Homo sapiens: one gene and its partners. The protein of the gene in region 5 interacts with the protein of the main gene of each other region in a pairwise test. Each region holds a gene or a part of one and is shown on either strand. Other genes may lie near its edges. The genes, in order: CD82, TMEM161A, SLC2A6, GOLGA8A, CHRM5 and ATP9A.

Region 1 (3,500 bases), on a different chromosome or scaffold from region 5:
AACTGAGAAAACACTATACCAACATCAACATCAACAAATAACATTTAATAGAACTTAGAACTTAATGGAACTTCACAAGACAAGATACTCTTGGTAGCTAAGGGCTAACTTGGGCACTGAGCTTCCTGGCAGTCAAGGCAAAAGTGGAAAATAGTGGATTTTGTAGATGAAAAGCAGCTTGTTTGGCTGTGAGACAGGAAGCCAGCAGTTAAGGGAGGGAAATTCCTTTCCCAGAAAAATGGTCATGGGGTCAGGTCTTCATTTCTGTCCTATGGCACTGAGCTTCTTTAGGACCTAGTTAGTGATATAATCAGGGTGGATTAGAACCAGGCCCCAGTGAGCCGGTTTCTATGACTCAGAAGCTGGTCGCCTCTGCAGGGATCTTGGGCAGTCCACCCTATGTGATTCACCATCTCACAGTAATAAATATGGCCCACCAGGTTGGCACCAACCACATGCCAGGAGCTGAGCTAGAAAAGTGAGCTGCAATACATGTTCAAATTTACAAACATTTTCCATTTGAAGAAACTGAGGCCCAGGAAAGCAAAGTGACTTTCAGCCACTGACACACACAGCTTGGATGCATCAGAGTGGGGATTTCCATCCTGATGCCTTGGAGTCCAAGGCCCATGCCTCCCTATCCACCACGCTGCCCTCCCGCCGGCTGGGTAACTCTGCTTGGCTGATAATGAGGAGCTTAGCCTCAGAGGTGTCCTATCAGCCCCAGAACAGGACTTGTTTGGAGATTTGGGTTTCTCGACCCCAGCCAAGCTCTGTGCATTGCACCCCCTGCCCCTGTCTTCCCCTTCAGAGTCCACACCCCCTAGTCCCAGCCTGCCTCACCTTAGTCCACCACCATCTTTTCTGGAAGGCAGGGGGAAATTTTCTGGCTTTGCTGAAGAAGTTCTGGTGCCACTGTATCGCCCGAATTGGAATGAACAATATATTTTTTTCTTTCGCAACGCATCATAAATCTCAGTGGAAGACTAAACATACTCTTGATGTGTTTATTCTGGCAGACAAGGCTCAGCGTGGGGGTGGGACTTGTTTGAACCTAAGGAAAAGAAAGGCCTTTTGAAAGGAGATAGGGCTCCCGTGCAGGTGGGTGGGAGTGACCCTGCTGTGGTCTCCAGGGCTGCCCTCTGTCCTTCCTGCCTCTGTCACCCGCAGCCACTCTTCTCAGGGCAGCGATGGGGAGGTTGGGGACCTTGGCATGGCCTGTCACCTCTGGAGCCTTGGGTTCTGCTTCTATAAATTGAGAATAAATCTGCCTCTCCCTGCTCTACCACTCAGGTTGAAGTGAACACAGACTGTGACACTTCTGTGAAAATGCAGAATGGTGTCCAAGGGTCTTGACTGTGGAACCACTGCTCTGACATTCTGGGCATGCTACTCAGCCTCCCTGTGCCTCAGTTTCCACATTTGTCAAACTAGTAACAATATAGGCCCACTGTCCCTTCTCTGCAATTCTGAAATCCAAAGAAACACTTTAAAAACCAAAAGTAGCATTTGCAACTAATTTGGTGGCAAAATTGAACCTGAACAGAAGCAAGGCTATGTATGGCCTTTGCCTGCCCCATTCGGGTGTCCCTAGGGAAATAGAAATGAGACTCACTGCAGGCTGCTGCCCCAGCCCCCACTAGTGGGTGTGATCTGTCCCTCCAGGCCCTTTCTAAAATCTGATCCTGTCTCGAGCCGGAGCCCCCAGGGGCTGCCTTGCAGCACTTCAGAGATGAAGAGCACTAACAAACGGGAAGGGCGTCGTGCGGCACTCAGCCGGAGGCTGATGTTGCTGGCATCATTGCCAGTGTTTATTATTATTGCCGCCATTATTCACTTCATGAAGGCCTGGTAAGGGCTCAATAGGTGGCAGCTGTTCCTGCTGCCCTCGTTGTCAGCAGAGCAAGGGCTGCGGGAATGGGGATCTGGGCACGGTGCTAAGATCCTCATCTGCTTGTTTATCCAGCCTCTGGTGAGCAGAGCCCAGCCCTGGGATTCAGGGGCCCTGTGTTTTAGTGTGGGCTCTGCCGCTGATTGCTGTGTGGCTTCGGATAAGTTACCCAGACTCTCTGATCCACAGGCGAGCTCTTGGGCCATGCCCAGTGCAGGCAGTCAGGGATTCTGACTTGTTCTCTCTAGAGAGTGGAGGTGGGAGGAGTGAGAAGGAAGTGAATGCAGTTTGCCCTTTCCTGTGGTGTGTGGGTGCTGAGCTGGGTGCACTTGGCAGGCCATACCTGTGCCAGGGAGGCCCCTGAGGCTCTGAGTGCTGTCACGCTCAAGCAGAAGACATTGGAGGGGAAGGGGCTCACTTGGCCTGGCTGGGAGCCAGAGGTGGGGGCTGTGACAGTGGCAGTGGCTGGCCAGACAACTCCCCAGAGATGTTGGTCAGGGGAACTGTGACTTCCTTCTTGTCCTCCTTGCTCTCACCCTGAAAGCCCCAAATTGTTGGTGCGCACATACCCTCATGTGTGAGACACAGGTGGCGAGACGGGTTCCTAGGGGACAGTGTGGTTCTCTGTGAACTGTCTGCTTGCTGAATTAGAACTTCCTGATTCTCTGGCTTGGGGTTCTCTTGCGATGGGGCAGAGGGAGGAAGAGCAGCTGGAGCCTGGGACAGGGAGAGGTGACCTTTCTCTCCCCTGTTGAGAAGGGAATGGAGGAGTCCAGGCTACCCCTCTGGAAAGGGATTATGGAAAGACACTTGGGCTAGAATCTCTGAAGCACACGCTGGTCACTGGCTCTGCATTCTGGGGTAGCTAATTACGTGGATTGCAGCTGGACTTGCAGAAAAGATGCAGGAAGCGCCCTCATTTCCTATCAGGGTACTGGGATGCAGCCTCTGAGCTGGTGTATCTGTATTCTAGCAAAGCATTTGCCAACATCTCATGTGGGAAACCTGGAGAGGACAGGAAGATGTGGGTCCAATTCATGCATTTATACCTTATTATAAGGGGCTATTTCACACCTTAAAGAGCATGGCAAGAGGTCTGCACAGCACCCCAAGGGGCGGGCACAGGAGCCCGAAAAGTTACCCTGGAGATGTAGTCTAGTCTCAAGTATCTGGATGACATGTGTCCTTCGAGAGAGGGATTTGATTTGTTCCTGTGGTCCTAGCTGGGACTTGGGTAGCTGAGAGAGGAGGAGGATGTGAACTAATACAAGTGGGTAGAAGTCATTTGAGCAGAACTTAAATTGTATCAGAGCCTCTCAACTCCGCAACATGCTATTGTGTGAGGTACTGACTTCCCCATCGCAGGGAGCATTTAAGCAGAGCCTAAAAAAGCATGACTCTTACATTTGGATGATTTGCTGGACGCAAAGGTCTCTCCTAACTCTGACTCTGTGAAAATTCACACTAAAAGAGAAGTCAAAGCTCAGCATTTGGGTGGGACGTGAGTAGAGCCATGCAGAGGACAGCAGGGTCATGGGGAGGCCCTGGGCAGCTTGCCGAGGCTAAGATCCCGGGTCCCTGGAGCTGCACAGATCAAGGTCTGGTCATG
Region 2 (3,500 bases), on a different chromosome or scaffold from region 5:
TTTTTTGTTTTTGTTTTTGTTTTGAGATGGAGTTTTGCTCTTGTCACCCAGGCTGGAGTGCAACTGTGCAATCTCAGCTCACTACAACCTCTGCCTCCTGGGTTCAAGCAATTCTTCTGCCTCAGCCTCCTGAGTAGCTGGGATTACAGGTGCACGCCACCACGCCTGGCTAATTTTTGTATTTTTAGTAGAGACGGGGTTTTACCATGTTGGCCAGGCTGGTCTCAAACTCCTAACCTCAGGTGATCCACCCACCTCGGCCTCTCAAAGTGCTGGGATTACAGGTGTGAGCCATCACACCTGGCAGTTTACCCAAGTTTTGACTGATATTTTTTATTATTCTGTTTGGGGTGTTTTAACATTTCCCTTCTGATTTCTGTAGAGATGGGGTCTTGCTATGCTTTGACCTATGGATTATTAAATATTTTTAAATTTTTCAAACATAGATCTTTAAAAAATACATATTTATTTCTAGCTCAATTGCACAGATGGTCTATTTGAAATAATTTCTTTAAAATTTGGTAAGATTTGCCCTATGGCCTGGAATGTGATCACATTTTGTGACTATTCCTTGTTTTCTTGAAGGACATATTCTGTTTTTGTTGTTTTGCCTTTTTTCACATGTTCTAATTGAAGGACATATTCCCTGGCTCTATGAGTTTAATAAATTCAAATCTCCATCTTGCCTAACCTTTTGTCTGTGACTTATCAGTCAGCAGAAGTTAATCTCCCTCTGGGACAAGAGAGCTCTCAATTTCCCTATCAATTCTGTCAGTGTTTTCTTTATATATTTTGCAGCCTATTCACAATTCACAGATTAGTTCTATTCACAGATTTAGAACTGTTACATTTTCCTGGTGAATCAGCCATTTTATCATGATGTATGGAACCCTTCTGTCTTCTAATACTACTTTTTTTTTTTTTGAGACAGAGTTTTGCTCTCGTTGGCCAGGCTGGAGTGCAGTGGCGCAATCTCGGCTCACTGCAACCTCCACCTCCTGGGTTCAAGCGATTCTCCTGCCTCAGCCTCCCAAGTAGCTGGTATTACCCGCCACCATGCCCAGCTATTTTTTGGATTTTTAGTAGAGCCAGGGTTTCACCATGTTGGCCAGGCTCGTCTCGAACTCCTGACTTTGTGATCTGCCCGTCTTGGCCTCCCAAAGTGCTGAGATTACAGGTGTGAGCCACCGCGCCTGGCCTATTCTAATACTACTTCTTAGTCTAGTTTGGCTGGTAGTAGTATAGCCTTTCTAGCTTGCTTTCTTTTGATTAGTATTTGCTGTATCTTTTTAACATCCCTTTACTTTCAGTCTTCCAGTGACTTTATGTCAAGGTATGTCATCCTTTAAAAAACATGTAGCTGGATATTTTCAATGTAGTCTGACAGTCTTTGTCATTTAACTTTAAAGTTTAGTCTACTTACATTTATTGTGATTACTGACATATTTGACTTTGTTTCTACCATCTTACTTTTTTGCTTTCTATTTGTTCCTTTTCTGTTGTTGCAGTTGACATTGGCTGTCAGCCTAATTGTTGTTCCTTTGTAGGTGATCTGTCTTAACTCCCTGGCTGCTTTGTAATTTTTTTGTTTTTGGTGTTCTGCAGTTTCACTCCATTATGTCTAGGTATGGATTTCTTTTTATTTACATGGTTTGATATACTTTGTGTCTGTCTTTCATTCTGCAAACTTCTCAACCATTCTCTTCCAGTAATTCCTTTTATTCTTCATTCCTTCTCTTCCCTCCCTCTGGGGCTCTGATTTGATTTGCGTTGGGCTCTCTGTTCTGTCTTCCTTATCTCTTAGCCTCTCTTCATATTTCTCACCTACTTGTTTTTCTGAGTTGGAATCTGAGTGATTTCTTCAGATCTGTCTTCCAGTTCATCACTTCCTCCTTTGGCTGTTCCTAATGTGCTGTTTAACAACCTATTATTTCAATACTTACAGTTTTCCTTTGGAAGAGTTTAATTTGGTTCCTTTGCAACTCTACCCAGTCATCTGAAGGAATTCTCATGTCACTTGTTCTGTGATTACAGCTTTCATTTCCTTAGTCATTTGACACATAATTGACAGCACCAATTTCTGAAGTCTTTGAGGCCTAAACTTGACTGTTGTTTTTCTGTTAACTCTCCTTTATGGTGATTTGTTTCCTTATGCATTTGGTGATTTTGCCTGTGAGCTCATATGAATTTGCTCCTTTTTTTTTTTTTTTTTGACAAGGTCTTGCTCTGTGCTGGAGTGCAGTGGCATGATCTCAGCTCACTGCAACTTCCACATCCTGGGCTCAACCCATCCTTCCCACCTCAGCCTTCACAGTAGCTGGGACTATAGGCGTGCACCACCACCCCTGGTTTTGTATTTTTTGTAGAGATGGGGGTTTTGCCATGTTGCCCAGGCTGGTCTCAAACTTGTGAGCTCAAACGATCCACCCGCCTTGGCCTCCCAAAGTGCTGAGACTTACAGGTGCAAGCCACTGCACCCAGCCCTGCTCTTAATTTTTGAAAAATCTTGGGTCCTGAATTGAGGATTCCTTCCTCCAGGAGGACTTTGGTTTTCTCCTGCAGGAGTCCTTCATCCCCCTCTAGATTCCTTCTATAACCTAGGGAGCTCAGGCTCAACAGATACCCCTGAATGTTCCCAGCCCAATCAGGAGTGTCTGCCTGGTGCATTCTGTTTCGTTTTCTTTGAGACTGAGTTTCACTCTTGTCCCCAAGGCTGGAGTGCAATGGTGCGGTCTCAGCTCACTGCAACCTCCGCTCCCCATGTTCAAGCGATTCTCCTGCCTCAGCCTCTCAAGTAGCTGGGATTACAGGCACCTGCCACCACACCTGGCTAATTTTTGTATTTTTAGTAGAGACGGGGGTTTCACTGCATTGGCCAGGCTGGTCTGAAACTCCTGATCTCAGATGATCCGCCTGCCTCAGCCTCCCAAAGTGCTGGGATTACAGGCGTGAACCACCACTCCAATCTTGTTTCTTGTAAAAAGTACTGTGTAACTAGAGCACAAAATTGTCCTTGTGCCTGGCTCAGGGCCTGGCAGACCCTTGTTCATTCCTACTTGGGAAGCAAACGGATGCCTGAGGGATGGGGGGTTAGGGAACAGAGTGGCCTTAGAGACCCTAGGAATTCACTCTACTCGGTCCTCTTCTTATCGTCCCCAGGTCTGGCCAGCATGACCCAGAACTTAGAGCCACTTCTGAAGAAGCAGGGCTGGGACTGGGCGTGAGTCCTGGGAATGGGGGAGGGAGGCAAGGGCAGGCTGGGACCCTCCCAGGGTCCCCCAGGCAGGCTCGTGACCTGGTGTTCTCCTAGGCTTCCTGTGGCCAAGCTGGCTATCCGCGTGGGACTGGCAGTGGTGGGCTCTGTGCTGGGTGCCTTCCTCACCTTCCCAGGCCTGCGGCTGGCCCAGACCCACCGGGACGCACTGACCATGTCGGAGGACAGACCCATGCTGCAGTTAAGTGGGTCGCTTGGTGGGTGGGGGGACTAGGGAGCTTAAGGG
Region 3 (2,753 bases), on a different chromosome or scaffold from region 5:
TCGCCCAGGGGGCGTGCTGTCCAGCAGGGGCCCTGCCTTGCAAGGAACGTCTCTTCCGGCGGCTGGGCCGCTCCTGCCTGGTCTGGGCTGTGTGTGGCGCCCTTTCCTCCTTGTTTGTTCCTCTGTGTTCTGTGTGCGTCTTAAGCAATAAAGCGTGGCCGTGGCTCGCGTGCCTGCCCTCTGCTCCCTTCTGCCTTGGTGCCTGTGTGTGAGTGTGGAAGCCAGGCAGGAGCCGCTGGCCCAGGAAATAACTACAGGTCCTGTCCCGAGGCTGCCCCCAGCATCCCAGACAAGGAAAGTGACCTGCCCAAGGTCACACAGCTAGAAAGAGCCTGTTAAGGGTGGGCCTCGCAGTGGGCTTCCCCTCACTGCAGCCTTTTCCCTGCCCTGCTTTTGCTATGGATCAGCAGTCAGTGGCCCTGGCAACCTTGGCTGGTTCGGGTCTAGCCTGGCTGCTGTGGGGGCTCCTGGAGTAGACCCCACTCTTTCCTCGCTAGGACTACAGGTCCAGTTCCTTTATTTTTACAAAAGGGTGAACACAGTTTGCAGATAGGAGCTGCCTGTTCCCAGAGGTTGGGCTGGGGCAGGAGGAAGTGGCCACGCCAGGTCCTTTGCCCTGGCTTTTTTTTTTTTTTTTTTGGCAGGGGGTGGGGACGGAGTTTCACTCTCGTTGCCCAGGCTGGAGTGCAATGGCATGATCTCAGCTCATTGCAGCCTCCACCTCCCGGGTTCAAGCAATGCTGCCTCAGCCTCCCAAGTAGCTGGAACTACGGGTGTGTGCCACCACACCCAGCTTTTTTGTATTTTTTAGTAGAGACGGGGTTTCACCATGTTGGCCAGGCTGGTCTTGAACTCCTGGCCTTGGGTAATCCACCTGCTTTGGCCTCCCAAAGTGCTGGGATTACAGGCGTGAGCCACTGTGCCCGGCCTGCCCTGGCTTTTTAAGTCCAGGATGTTCCCTGTGGTGCCCATAAGACTTGTGAGGGCAAAGCCGGGTCTTCCTTGCACAGCCAGATGCCACCAGATCAGAGCGCGATGATATGACTACGTTACTTGGCTGCCTCCAGCCCTGTCCTCTCAGTCCTCCCCGTAGCCTTCTGTGGGGCGTGTCCTTCACGCAAGGGAAAGGGACTAGGCCTGAGGTCACCCAGCAGGGCCGTGTCCCTGGATGCAGGGTTGTATGCACTCCTGCGGCCCATGGCTACGTGCAGCACTGTGGGCTGCCTGGGCTGGGGCTGTGGCTGGACAGCAGTGCTACCTGTCCCGAGCCAGGGGCACCCGCTGCTGAGGCCCCATCACACTGCTCTTCCTGTGCTCTGGCTGGTGGCAGGGATGACTGCTGCCTCTTGGTCCCAGGGTGCAGGTTTGTAGCCAACACAGAGGCCCAGCCACTGGGGGTTTGGCCCCCTCCAGGCGGGGACCTTGACCTAGCGCAAGAAGGACCTTCTCCCCGTGCGGAAGAAGGACTCGATCTGCTCCAGGGACCGTCCCTTGGTCTCGGGCACACAGCAGCCTGTGAACACCAGGCTCACCAAGCAGATGGCCGCGAAGAAGAAGAAAGGCACCTGGAGGCCGAAGGTGCTCTGCGGGTGAAGAGCGGGGCCGGGTCACAGGGAGAAGCTCCAGGGTCCTCCTGCCCCAGAGGAGCTCGTGGGCGCTGCTGGTAGTGACCAGCCCTGTGGGGCCTTCATCTGGTCCTTCCTGTGTTCAGAGACCGCCCCCCCACACCAGGGCTCCCCCACTGTCCCCAGGACAAATCCGAAGTAGCCCTTGAAGTCTGCATCCCGTCTGCCCCTCGGCCTTCCTCAGGGGCTGGGCCCTCTGGCGTCAGCTCAGGTACCCCCTCCACACCCCCTACCCAGCGCTGGCATCCCAGCTGTTCCATGCCGCGGCCTGCAGGAGGCCCGCCCTGCAGCCTGGTGGGCACGCAGGTTCTTCTTGGACCCTCTAGGCTGATGGACTCACTCTGGGTTGCCTGCCCTCCCCCAACCCCCCTGCCCTGACCACTGCAGGGACAGCTTAGGCGCTGGCCTAGGCTGCCCTAGCCAGCTTCTCCCTCATGGGAACTTACTCTGGGCCTCACAGATTCTGGCTGGTCACAGGGCCCGTAGTTTTGAACCAGGAGGCAGGGGGAGTGGGTGGGGTTGAGGGGGGAGTGTGGCTGCTGCTGAGACCCAGCGCCCAGGAGGGCGGGAGATGAGGCACGGTGGGGAGGTGGCTTCCGGGGCCCCTGGCAGGGTCCTGGGCCATGTCCTGCCCTGGCCCAGGAGGTAACCTGACTTCCCAGAACAGTTGCCTACGCCCGTTCCTGTTTCTTATAATGAAGAGCGTTTGCTAGGCTATCACGTGACCACTCTGGGGTCTCTGAGTTCAGGGGGTGTGTGCTCATCTCCTAGGGTCACTGAGAGTTAGGGTCCTGACAGCAGGCCTTGGCACAGCCCCTGGCACTGAGAAGGGTCCTGGCCAGTCAGAGAGGGCCTAGGGGCCTGGGGCCTGGGGCTGAACACTCACCACCACTGGCAGGAAGGACTTGGTGAGGACGAAGGCGGTGAGCCAGCTGGCCAGCACGCAGAGCCCTGAGGCCACGCCACGGGCACGCAGGGGCAGGACCTCAGACATGAGCAGCCAGGTGATGGGACCCCAGCCCACGGCGTAGCCTGCTCGGAGGAGGAGGCAGGTTCAGGCCCTGTGGGGTGACTGGAGGCGGCTGTGTCTGTCTCCGCTGAGCTGCTGGAGACCCCCCTCTCCAGCCA
Region 4 (4,147 bases), 460 kb from region 5:
ACAAAATTTATTTACATGTAGCCTCATGTTAATTTTAATTTTCTCTTGAAAGCACTGAATAAACTATGTGTTGTGTACCTGTGCTTTGGCTATGATACATTGCATGAGGTCAGGTGTAGAATTTTGTACTTGAGGCATCATATGGGCACCCAAAAAATTTCGAATTTGGGAGAGTTTTGGATTTCAGATTAAGGATGCTCATCCTTTGCCGGAATTCTACAGAAACTCAACCATACTTTTATTACTACCTTGGTGCAAAAGCAATTGCAATTTTTGGCAATGGCGAATACTGTAATTGTTTTTGTACTAACCTAATAACTACGGTTTTTATTATCCTCCTCCTTTGACATACAGAGAATATATTATTCTTCTGATATCATCTTCCATATGGCCCAAATATTTAGGAATTTCACATGATCATTTTTCTCAAAGCAAATGCATTTGTGGCCAAATTTTACAGTTATTACATAGCTAGCATGTTAACCTTGATATTATGTCACGTTTCAAATTTTGTTCCCTCTGATTTTAAACTGAATTGAGAAAAAAATAAACTTGGCTCTCTAGAAACGCAAAGAGTAAATGAGAAGTAATATGATATCGCACACTTAAAATATTTTAAAGCAGGCTTCTACTGTTACTGTTATTTTTTAGCACAAACCAAAAGTGACCATTTTCTTTGAATAAATAATAAAATTTTATATTTTAATAACATTGGCAAGCATTTTCTCATTTAAATATCTCAATTTTTAATGGAAAGTATTTCGTTTTATATAAGAGAAAAATATAAAAGGATCATGTGAGTTTATGAAAACGTCACAGATAGTGTATGATATGTTTTATGTTTATGTTTCATACTCCAAACCCAGTGGCTTTTGTGTTCAAAAACGACATTTGATTAGCAAGAGGAAATGGCCATTTTACTATTACTTATCTGGAATGGTAGCATATTCCAGATAAGTAAAGGAGAATCAGCCCCATCTTTAATACTGCCAACTGGATTTGTGTCATAAAGAGAAATTAGGGGACTAAAAAGGAAACATATAAGCCTTGTCTTTCCAGATTGGAGATGGATAAGTATATAAGGACTGACATACTATTGCTTTACAACAGTTTTCCCAGGACAAATTGAGACACCAGAAGCCAGCATATAGGTTGTGACTGATCTATTCAAATTGTTCCTAATAATGGCATCAGGGTTTTTTAAAAAAAAATTTTGTCATGCTTTAAGTTCTGGGATACACGTGCAAAACGTGCACGTTTGTCACCTAGGTATGCAGCTCAGTGCGCGTGCGCCATGTGGCGCGGCCCTGCGGGCTTTCCGTACTCCGCTCGCGGTAGGCTCCCGCCGCTATTCAGCTGTCGGGCTAATCAGCAGTCGAGGTGTGCGGCTAGGCGCGAGCTCTGCGGGAGCTCAGCCCCCGGGAGAGACCCGGCAGCGGCGCGGCGAGGACGGCGGCGCGGCGAGGACGGCGGCGCGGCGAGGACGGCGGCGCGGCGAGGACGGCGGCGCGGCGAGGACGGCGGCGCGGCGAGGACGGCGGCGCGGCGAGGACGGCGGCGCGGCGAGGACGGCGGCGCGGCGAGGACGGCGGCGCGGCGAGGACGGCGGCGCGGCGAGGACGGCGGCGCGGCGAGGACGGCGGCGCGGCGAGGACGGCGGCGCGGCGAGGACGGCGGCGCGGCGAGGACGGCGGCGCGGCGAGGACGGCGGCGCGGCGAGGACGGCGGCGGACCGGGGCAGCCCCGCGCCCTGGCCAGGTAAGCTGGGGAACCTCGGCTGCCTGACTCGCTGGCGGCGGCAGCCTTGGGCCGCCCGCGGCGCCGCGGGGACCCGGACGCGTGGGGGGCGGCGCGTAAGCTGCGGGCCAAGAGCTCCCGAGCGCTGCCCCCCGGACTCGGCGGGGCTGCGGGGAGGCCGCCGCTGGGATCTAGGGGTGCAGCCCGGCGGCCTTACGCCTCTCGGACCGGCCCATCCTCCTCCCACGATGGGCGGGCGGGTGCGGCGGGGACTAGGCGATGGCTTTCGCATCCCGGGAGGGGCTCACCGCGGCGAGGGGCCACTCTCGGCGCCGGCAAGTGGCGCTGTCTGGCGGGGCCGCCCGCTCGCGTCTCGCCGGGCTGGTCGGGCCGCTGGTGCGTTCCGCTGCCCGGCTTGGCGCCGGCATCAAGTCCCCGTGCCGGGCGGCAACTACTGAGTTTGGGATCGCCTCTGGGTTCACTTCCCTGGGAGAACTCGAGCCCGGATCTTCGCCCCTTCCCTTTCCCTGTATAATAAGGCCCAGAGGGAAAAACTCAAAAACCCCACACCTTGTTGCCCCTGGGCTGCAGGCGCCGGGTTGGGGGCACGGTGCGGACCTGCGCCTCTGCAGGGCCCCTTCTCCACGCCAGGCACTGCCTGGCAAGGCTGCTGGAGGGAGATCTGGCCGCAGATGGTGAAGGAGAACATCGAGGCCCCCGGTCCCCAAGCAGGGCTCCATGGGTCGGGCGGCGGGCCTTGGTAAGCCCAGGCTAGGGGCGAACTTCCTTTTCTCCGGGCCGACGCGGAGGGAGGGTGCGGGGAACGCCCGCGGAGGGGCCTGTCCTGCAGCACCCCAGTGGAGAGCAGAGCCTTAGAGGGGCCTGCTAGTCTTAACTTAGTATTTACTGGCAGAAGAAAGGCTTACTTTTTCAGATCTCTTCAGATAACGACCTGGCAGGCACCAGACGTAAATCTGTGGTTGAGTGCAGTCAGCTCCTAAACAGGCATGCGGTGGAGGAAGCGCCCCAAACTTGGCATCTTGTGTCTGGCACTTTGTTTTTGGGCTAAACTGCCTCTGGCGTCTTCAGCCTTCTGTGCCTCTTTGTTTTTGTTTGTTTTTCTATTTTCCTTCCTGTTTCAGAAAGGACAGTGGTTTTAGAAGTAATGACCTGAGAGCTTTGCAGGTTGAAGTGGGACAAGTTTTCCTAAGGTGCAGGTTGGCAGGTGCCAGGAGCCTGCCGGTGGCTTTTTCTCAGGCCTCTGGGTCAGGGTCCCTCCAGTGAGGTGAGGCAGGGGTTTCTCCCCTCCCAGAGGTGTGGCCACTACGCAGGGGGACAGGAACTGGGTTTCCCAGTCCGGGGAGTCCAGGATGCCCTGCACTCTGCGCTGATTCCTGGGTGACCGTGGGGGCTGCCTTCCCCCACAGCCTGGGCTGGAGAGGGTCTCCTGAGCTTAGGATCCGCGGGGCAGGAGGGCTGGGGTGACAAGGACACGTGGAACCTGCTGGGGCTCCGGGCAGTGTCCAGGGCGTGAGTAGATAAAGCTGGAGCTCGTAGCTGTGTGCTGGCAGCCCTCGGTGGGCTCTAGCAGTACTGGCAGGGGGGCCCTTGGAGTGGGCTCCCTCTCTGGGCTGGGACTGGGTGATGGCAGTAGCAATGGGGCACGAAGTCTTCCCTCTCATTTGTTAGGAAGTGTGGTCTGTGCTCCTCCCCACTGTCTGGCTCTTGGGCTGGGAGAAGCTGCAGGCTGAGTCCCACGGGGTGTGAGTGTGTGTGAGCAGGAGTGGGTGCTGGAAGGAGGTAAAGCTGGTGACCATCAGCTCCTCATTCTCTTGCACCTTGCATGTTTTCTCTGACACCGCAGACCCAAGTTGTGGCTTGCTGGTTAACTTGTTTACATAACCTTCTTAAGTAACTCTAAACTTTAAAAAAAAAAATGTTTTACAGGAATAATCGGTGGAGATGGATTGTGAAATGGAGGTGCATAAATATCCAGTTTGCCAACCGAGCTAAGAAATGCTGGATAAAAGTAAAAGGTAATTGTAAAAGACACTGATCACACCCCTGGAAGCTTAGAGATGGGATAAGACACTTTGATTTTTCCTAGACAAAACTGAGGAAGTCAGAGGAAAAACAGTTGATGGTGAGATTGGCATCAGGCTGGGCTTTGTTTGGATTGGGCCGCGGTGGCTGCAGTGAGGGCTGTTGGAGTGGGGAGAGTGGGGGTTGAGCCTGGCTGCAGAGGCCCCCTCCAGGCCTCAGCTCCTCTCCGGCACTCCTCCGTGTCCTCTGCCATGCATACCTGCCCCGGTGACTTAATAGGTGAGGGCCTCAGGTGACACCGTCGTCTGAAGTCTTGGAGAAACCTTTACTGTCCAGGGGAGGAGAGGACTGGCGGTCGGTGGGGATC
Region 5 (3,500 bases):
ACATCCATTTCGTGTATGTTGACATAACAATCTTAAAAAGTAATTTTTGTCTGAAATACCAAGCAACATAATTTTGTATATAAAATTAGAAACATACCTAAAATTCATTTTTCTGTGTTAGCATTCAACTTAAAGGGACATTGCATAATATTTTTAAATGCATTAAATATATATTTACTTATATCTTCATTATTATAACTTTAAGTTTTCATAAGGAATTTTTTTCATTCCATTATAATGGCACCGTGTTTCAAGCTTAATTCAACTGGGCATTTCAACTAGCCAATATATTTGTTCCTTATTATGGTTAATTTTCCTTATGAAGTGACCAAATTTGAATAAGGATGTAGTTCACCATGAAGATCATCTCCTCTCCAGCTTCTTCCTGCTGAGAGAGAACAATCTTTGGTTTGTGACATCACAATCTGTGACTGGGAAGTGGCTCTGATATCAAACAGATGATTATATGCTTTCAGTGTGAACTAGCTAAAAGAGAGATGTAAGCACTATTATTTCAAGTCATATCACCAAGACACTAAAGAGATGCATGACAGGAACTGAATTAGAGAAAGATGCTTTTATTGCATTTGTCACTTTTTCAGCATCAACTATTAAAGATAAAAGTACCATCTCACAGTTTTCTCATTAATAATTCAAAAGCGGGAGTAAACATCATGTTGGTTAAATTCACAGACCATGATAAAACGGGAGTAAGGAAAATACCAGTAAGCAAGCAGACAGTCATGAAAGAGGCCCCTAGAGAACTGAGAAATAGATGCAAAATTTCACCTTGGTTCAAGCAGAAATACTGATGCTACTCAGAAAATTGAAAAATTACCAAAACACCCAAAATGAGAAAGACGGTGTCTCTGAATGAGAAAGAGATCCCTAAATATAGATTATAAAGTGATCCCATGACATAGATTAATTAGTATCTGACACATGGACTAGTATGAGGGCAGGGAGGGGGCTGGTTAACACCTTTCTAAAACAGCATGGATTTGTTAAAAAACAAAAACAACAACAGAAAACAAAAACAAAAACAAAAACAAAAAAACAAAGGACTGTCTTGAATTAGCAAAACTTCTGTGTTCTCTGAAAGTCTTCAACAAATATTTGTAAAAAATAAATAAAAATAAATCAGGAGTTAGGGTTCAATTAAGGAAACAAAAATGAAAGCTCCTTTTACAAACACATAGGCATATACAGACCTCTTTTTGTAATCTTTGTTTGCAACAGTAGCCAAAAGACAAAGCAGACCAACTAATCCTTCCACACTGAACACATGTGCAGTCTGTCCTTTGATTAGTGGCAATACCCTGATTCAGAGTATCAGTCATTTGTGACTGACCCTCCTAGACTCAGAGCCTATACAAAGATGATGTGTAAAAAATACAGTTAACTACTCCACGCATAATTACAAGTCAAGCTGAAGTCTCATTATCTACAGTTACACAGATTGCTTGATCCAGTGGTGTGTAGAGAATTCTTAAAGCATTTATTCAGTCCTATGTACTGGTTCATTACAACCAATGGGTTATTCAGCAGTTGTTTAAAGATCTGACATTCTCCATTTTTTGTATTGAAATTATTAGTGAAATAACTCAAGAATCTGGACCAATCAGAAAACATTACCACTTTTATAGACATTGTTTGACGTCACACTGTTGTCATCATCAGACTACGTGGGCCTTCTTATTTCCTGATTATCACTATAGAAATGTAGCACTGAATAATGTGTTCTTTAAGAAGCAAAAGCCAGAGATGATTTCCAGTTCAGTTATCAACTAAAAATCCTTAGCTATTTATAGAATTTTTTGGTACAGTAACCTAGAAAGCTGTTGGTGTAAATCTATCAGGCTCAGTATATAACATAGTACAACTCTTAATATTTCATCAACTGTATACCTTCCCTTCATTTGTGTTGCAAAGACAGTCCTCTACATGCAGTAACTTCTGGGTAACTTCTGGTAATACCTACAGAAGAGCTTCTCATGCCTAGGAACTTCCCCAACACTTTGAGGATACTTCTTTCATAACACCTTGTTAGATTCCATTGAAAACCTATTTATGGCCAAGCGCAACCTGTAATCCCAGCACTCTGGGAGGCCAAAGCTGGAGGATCGCTTGAGGCCAGGAGTTCGAGACCCACCTAGGCAACACAGCAAGACTCCATCTCTATAAAAAAATCTAAAAGTTAAAAAAATAAGAAAATCTATTTATATAGTTGTCTGACATACGAAATTGCATTTTTCATGGTTGAGGGCCTTAAGAGTAAAGACCACATCTAATTTATCTGTCTATTCCCAAGGTAAGCTCAGGACTAGTTAATCAGCAGATGTGTTAAATGAATGTGAAAATGTATCTTAATGCATTCTCAGGTACAATCTCAGACAGCCAGAAGAATAGTGATCCTAAAATATACCTCAGCTGCATTTCACTGATAATAGGCAAGTAGGTAACTGCAGAAAAGTCTAATGAAGGAGTCTTTTAAAGTAGTTTATACTGAAATAATAGCTATAAGGAGATAATATCTGTTAGGGATAGTATATGATATTATGAGGTATGCAAATACAGGATAGCAAATTTATCCCTTATGCTTTTGCTCTATTTGACATATGGAAATCACGTTTGCTATACTACTAGATCTAGAATTTCATCGATAATCCAAAAGGATCTAAATTGGTCTTGCTATTAAAAAGTGACTTCAGGGGAATTTGAATAAGTACTTTGCAAATGAAATTGAAGAGATACTACAGTCATCTTTCTATTCAAAGATGAGTGGAGAAAGTGACACACTTAAAATCTTACATTTATTCTGTTGGATGCTCTACCTGCCCCCTCTCCCTCTTTCACTCTCTGTGAGGAATGAATCTTTGCAAGTTACCTATGTTATATCTCCCCAAGTCATCTCTTCTCCTTATGCCAACATACAATATACCAACAATGGTGATTTCTTTAAAAGCAGGGACAAAGGCTAAAAGACTATGCTGTGCCTCAACCCCTATGATAGAAATTAAAGTAGCAGAGTGTTGAAGTAGGCCAGCATCACTCTAGAATTCATCAACATGTGTGTTGGGGTGGGGGCAGCTATAGTCTGAAGATGCTCAGGGTACATGAATAATGCATGTGTACGTCCTCACAGAAATCTGTGATTTGATGTTGGCGTGCACAACTTAAGATTTTGAGCTTTGGGCCGGGCACAGTGGCTCACGCCTGTAATCCCAGCACTTTGGGAGGCCGAGGCAGGTGGATCACCTGAGGTCAGGGGTTTGAGACCAGCCTGGCCAACATGTTGAAACCCCGTTTCTAATAAAAATACAAAAATTAGCCGGGTGTGGTGGTGCATGCCTGTAATCCCCGCTACTTGGAGGCTGGGGCCGGAGAATCGCTTGAACCCAGGAGGTGGAGCTTGCAGTGAGCCAAGATTGCACCATTACGCTCCAGCCTGAGCAACAAGGGCGAAACTCTATCCTGAAGGAAAAAAAGAACAACAGATT
Region 6 (3,500 bases), on a different chromosome or scaffold from region 5:
ACAGTGTGTGGTCTCCACCCCCTGGAAGGCTGCACTCTTGAGCCACTGGCAAAGGAGTAGAGGCCTGGCACGTGCTTATCTACTCTCCAAGGGAAATATTAAAAATAATAACAAAAAGAGCCAAAGTCTGAGAGGTGGAGAAAAATCATGACCTGAACAAAGGGGCCTGGGGAATTTGAAGAAAGAGCAGCAGTGTCCAAATATCCTTAGGGAAAGGGAGCCTGGTGCACCGGCAGGCCAGGGCCAGCAGCACAGCCTGAGCCTCGCCTACCTACTGCACAGGTGAGCTTGCCCGTGCGCTCCTGAAGCAGGCGCACGATCTGGGCCTTCTGGGTGGGGGCACATCGGCAGCAGACTACGGCCGGGCACTGGCAGGCCAGCTCCATGAACTCGTACTCATAGTACTTGAGGCAAACCTGCAGGGTGGAGGGAGAGGTGGTGCGTTGGTGGAGGGAGAGGTGGTGCGTTGGTGGAGGTCGCTGCCGAGCCTGCAGTGCCCCTGCCGAAGCCGGGTAAGACCCAGGCTGCTGGGAGGACTGGCTCTCAGGGGTCCCCAAGCTCACCTCCAGGGAGTCTCCCGAGATGACCAGGGCACAATCATGCTTCCTGCGGAAGGCGTTCAGCTCGAGGTGAGCCTCCCCGCGGTTGGTCACCTGGAAGGGAACAGAGATGGGGAAGGAGGCATTGCTCTCCGGACATGATAGAACAACAAACAGTGGCTTCCAGGAGCCCACATGAAGACAACGGCCACCCCAGCCAAGGGTCCCTCCCCTCCCCTGCCACCAGAGGCAGCACCAAATGGAATCCTATTGGTTGACTCTGCAGGAATCAAGAGAGCCCATGTGCCAACCACCACCTACAATTTCCCCCAGGACTAAAAATGCCTGTACTGGCCAAGCGCAGTGGCTCATGCCTGTAATCCCAGCACTTTGGGAGGCTGAGGCGGGCAGATCACTTGAAGTCAGGAGTTTGAGACCAGCCTTGCCAACATGGTGAAACCCACTCTCTACTAAAAATAGAAAATTAGCTGGGCATGGTGGTGGGTGCCTGTAATTCTAGCTACTTGGGAGGCTGAGGCAGGAGAATCACTTGAACCCAGGAGGCAGAGGCTGCAGTGAGCCGAGATCATGCCACTGCACTGGCAGTATGGGCAACAGAGCAAGACTCGTCTTTTAAAAAAAAAAAAGGGGGGGGGGGGCCAGGTACGGTGGCTCACACCTGTAATCTCAGCACCTTGGGAGGCTGAGGTGGGCGGATCACCTGAGGTCAGGAGTTCAAGACCAGCCTGACCCACATGGAGAAACCCCATCTCTACTAAAAATACAAAATTAGCCGGGCTTGGTGGCACATGCCTATAATCCCAGCTACTTGGGAAGGCTGAGGCAGGAGAATCGCTTGAACCTGGGAGGTGGAGGTTGCGGTGAGCCGAGATCATGCCATTGCACTCCAGCCTGGGCAACAAGAGCAAAACTCTGTCTCAAAAAAAAAAAAAAAAAAAGCCTGTACTTTCATTTTCGGCCAGGTGTTGGATGATGCATTCGGTGGATTTTTCTCATTTATTTCTCACAACGGCTCTATGAGGTGCCAAAAAGAAGAAGCTCTATTTTGCACCTAAGGAAACTGAAGCATGGTGACATCTGCTAACCTGACTAAAGGCACATGGCTAGTATGCTGTAGCCCAGGTATGCAGAGCCAGGCACCTAGCAGGGACTGGGCCACTTTTCTGTAAAGGACCAGATGTTAACTATTGTAGGCTTTGAGGACCACATGGTCTCCATCACAACCACTCAGCTCTGCCGTTGTAATCCAAAAGCAGTCGTACACCATATGCAAACGAGCCGGTCTGTCTACACTCCAATAAAACAAAATACCTGCTGTTTAGAAAAACAGGTGGCTAGCACATAGGTCATTAGTTTGCAATCCCTGAATTCTAGAACAGACAGTCAATTCTCATTATTCATAGTAGCTATGTTTTCTAAAGTCACTGTGAACACTGAATTAGCAAATACTAAACCATCACCTGTAGGGGAAATACAGGGTTAGGTTTTTGCCCCTGGTTGCAATATCTTCATAAATATATAACCTTATTTTATGTGCGTTTCTACTTAAAGACACCTGGATTCATTAACATTGAGCTCACAGCCACCAGTTCTGTAACTCATGCCTGCAGGAAGCTCATCTAACACACGCATTCGCTCCATAAGTCACATCAACAGCCTTCCTGTTGATGTGACTTATGGATGTTGGGAAGTTCAAGTTCCAGAAAACAAGCCAGCAAAGAAGCGCTGTGTGCGGCCATTTTAAACGACAAACTGCCAACAAAAAGCATAAAAATGCAAAAAACCGGATACTCGATGGACTGCAAAAACGACACTGGTTCGTCACACGGGGCTGAAAGGAGGGGGGAGTGCGTGAGCTTGTTCAGCCTCAGGTGGGAATGTGTGTCTCAGGCAGCTAAAATTTTAAGCCACTCTAGGCCAGGCGCGGTGGCTCACGCCTGTAATCCCAGCACTTTGGGAGGCTGAAGTGGGAGAATCACCTGAGGTCAGGGGTTCGAGACCAGCCTGGCCAAAATGGTGAAACCCGTCTCTACTAAAAACACAAAAATTAGCCAGGTGTGGTGGCAGGCGCCTGTAATCCCAGCTACTTGGGAGGCTGAGGCAGAAGAATTGCTTGAACCCAGGAGGCGGAGGTTGCAGTGAGCCAAGATTGCACCACTGCACCCCAGCCTGGGTGATAAGAGCAAGGCCCCATCTCAAAAAAAAAAAAAAAAGGAGAGATTTAAGCCACTCTACGTATGACAGTGAAAATATCAAGAGTACTGATTTGGAGGTCACAGATAAATTTTGGGAGGAGGAGAATTCACAAAGAATCTGTGAATGATGAGAACTGACTGTACCTGCCTCTATACAATACTATGCTATTTCAAAAATCCCTGGATTTTTTGAAGCTTCTGTGTGCTATGGACCAAAGGCGGGGTGAGGGCGAGACCCCCAAACATCTAGAGACCCTCCAGTGGTTTGCCATCGTGGCTCTGGTTTCAGATCAGTGGGATTACTATATCCTGCCCCAAAGAGGACCCGGTCCCCCTACCTCCCCAATGCAATAAAGCCTAGCACAGTCCTCACTGGCAGCAGTTCCTGATGTGCACATTGTCTTGGTCAATGTCTGCCACAAGGGCGGGCGATTTCTCATTTGCCCATCCAGTTCACCTCCTTCAAAAGGCTCCTCAATGGTCCTAAATGCTTCCCCTCTCAGGAGGGCAGATGGACCAGTATCTGTGGCCTGGAATTTCTTTCTTATCCAAGGACTTGACTTTCAGGGGTTCCGTGAAATCCCAGGAATCCCATGCATAATTTCATGTGTATGAGTGGATCTGCATCTTTCGGGGGGAGTGCCTGACTTTCATCAGCTTCTCAAAGGGACCACGACCCCCAAAAGGTTAAGAGCATGGCATTAGCACAGGGCTAGAAGGAGGTACTCCCAAACCACTACTGGAA

The links.
Region 1: the proteins of CHRM5 (region 5) and CD82 interact in a two-hybrid assay, tested with the Homo sapiens proteins (one large-scale study listed by BioGRID and IntAct).
Region 2: the proteins of CHRM5 (region 5) and TMEM161A interact in a two-hybrid assay, tested with the Homo sapiens proteins (one large-scale study listed by BioGRID and IntAct).
Region 3: the proteins of CHRM5 (region 5) and SLC2A6 interact in a two-hybrid assay, tested with the Homo sapiens proteins (one large-scale study listed by BioGRID and IntAct).
Region 4: the proteins of CHRM5 (region 5) and GOLGA8A interact in a two-hybrid assay, tested with the Homo sapiens proteins (one large-scale study listed by BioGRID and IntAct).
Region 6: the proteins of CHRM5 (region 5) and ATP9A interact in a two-hybrid assay, tested with the Homo sapiens proteins (one large-scale study listed by BioGRID and IntAct).

The regions. Positions count from the first base shown.
Region 1 is NC_000011.10:44,607,163-44,610,662, forward strand, and holds part of CD82 (CD82 antigen), read left to right. Parts: intron 1-3,500. UniProt on the Homo sapiens protein: Structural component of specialized membrane microdomains known as tetraspanin-enriched microdomains (TERMs), which act as platforms for receptor clustering and signaling.
Region 2 is NC_000019.10:19,121,479-19,124,978, reverse strand, and holds part of TMEM161A (transmembrane protein 161A isoform 1 precursor), read left to right. Parts: intron 1-3,159; coding exon 3,160-3,220; intron 3,221-3,310; coding exon 3,311-3,454; intron 3,455-3,500. UniProt on the Homo sapiens protein: May play a role in protection against oxidative stress. Overexpression leads to reduced levels of oxidant-induced DNA damage and apoptosis.
Region 3 is NC_000009.12:133,470,594-133,473,346, forward strand, and holds the end of SLC2A6 (solute carrier family 2, facilitated glucose transporter member 6), read right to left. Parts: intron 2,658-2,753; coding exon 2,512-2,657; intron 1,584-2,511; coding exon 1,428-1,583; 3' UTR 501-1,427; downstream 1-500. UniProt on the Homo sapiens protein: Probable sugar transporter that acts as a regulator of glycolysis in macrophages. Does not transport glucose.
Region 4 is NC_000015.10:34,435,009-34,439,155, reverse strand, and holds the start of GOLGA8A (golgin subfamily A member 8A), read left to right. Parts: upstream 1-1,347; 5' UTR 1,348-1,758; intron 1,759-3,684; 5' UTR 3,685-3,773; intron 3,774-4,147. UniProt on the Homo sapiens protein: May be involved in maintaining Golgi structure.
Region 5 is NC_000015.10:33,971,497-33,974,996, forward strand, and holds part of CHRM5 (muscarinic acetylcholine receptor M5), read left to right. Parts: intron 1-3,500. UniProt on the Homo sapiens protein: The muscarinic acetylcholine receptor mediates various cellular responses, including inhibition of adenylate cyclase, breakdown of phosphoinositides and modulation of potassium channels through the action of G proteins.
Region 6 is NC_000020.11:51,618,391-51,621,890, forward strand, and holds part of ATP9A (probable phospholipid-transporting ATPase IIA), read right to left. Parts: intron 654-3,500; coding exon 564-653; intron 417-563; coding exon 272-416; intron 1-271. UniProt on the Homo sapiens protein: Plays a role in regulating membrane trafficking of cargo proteins, namely endosome to plasma membrane recycling, probably acting through RAB5 and RAB11 activation. Also involved in endosome to trans-Golgi network retrograde transport.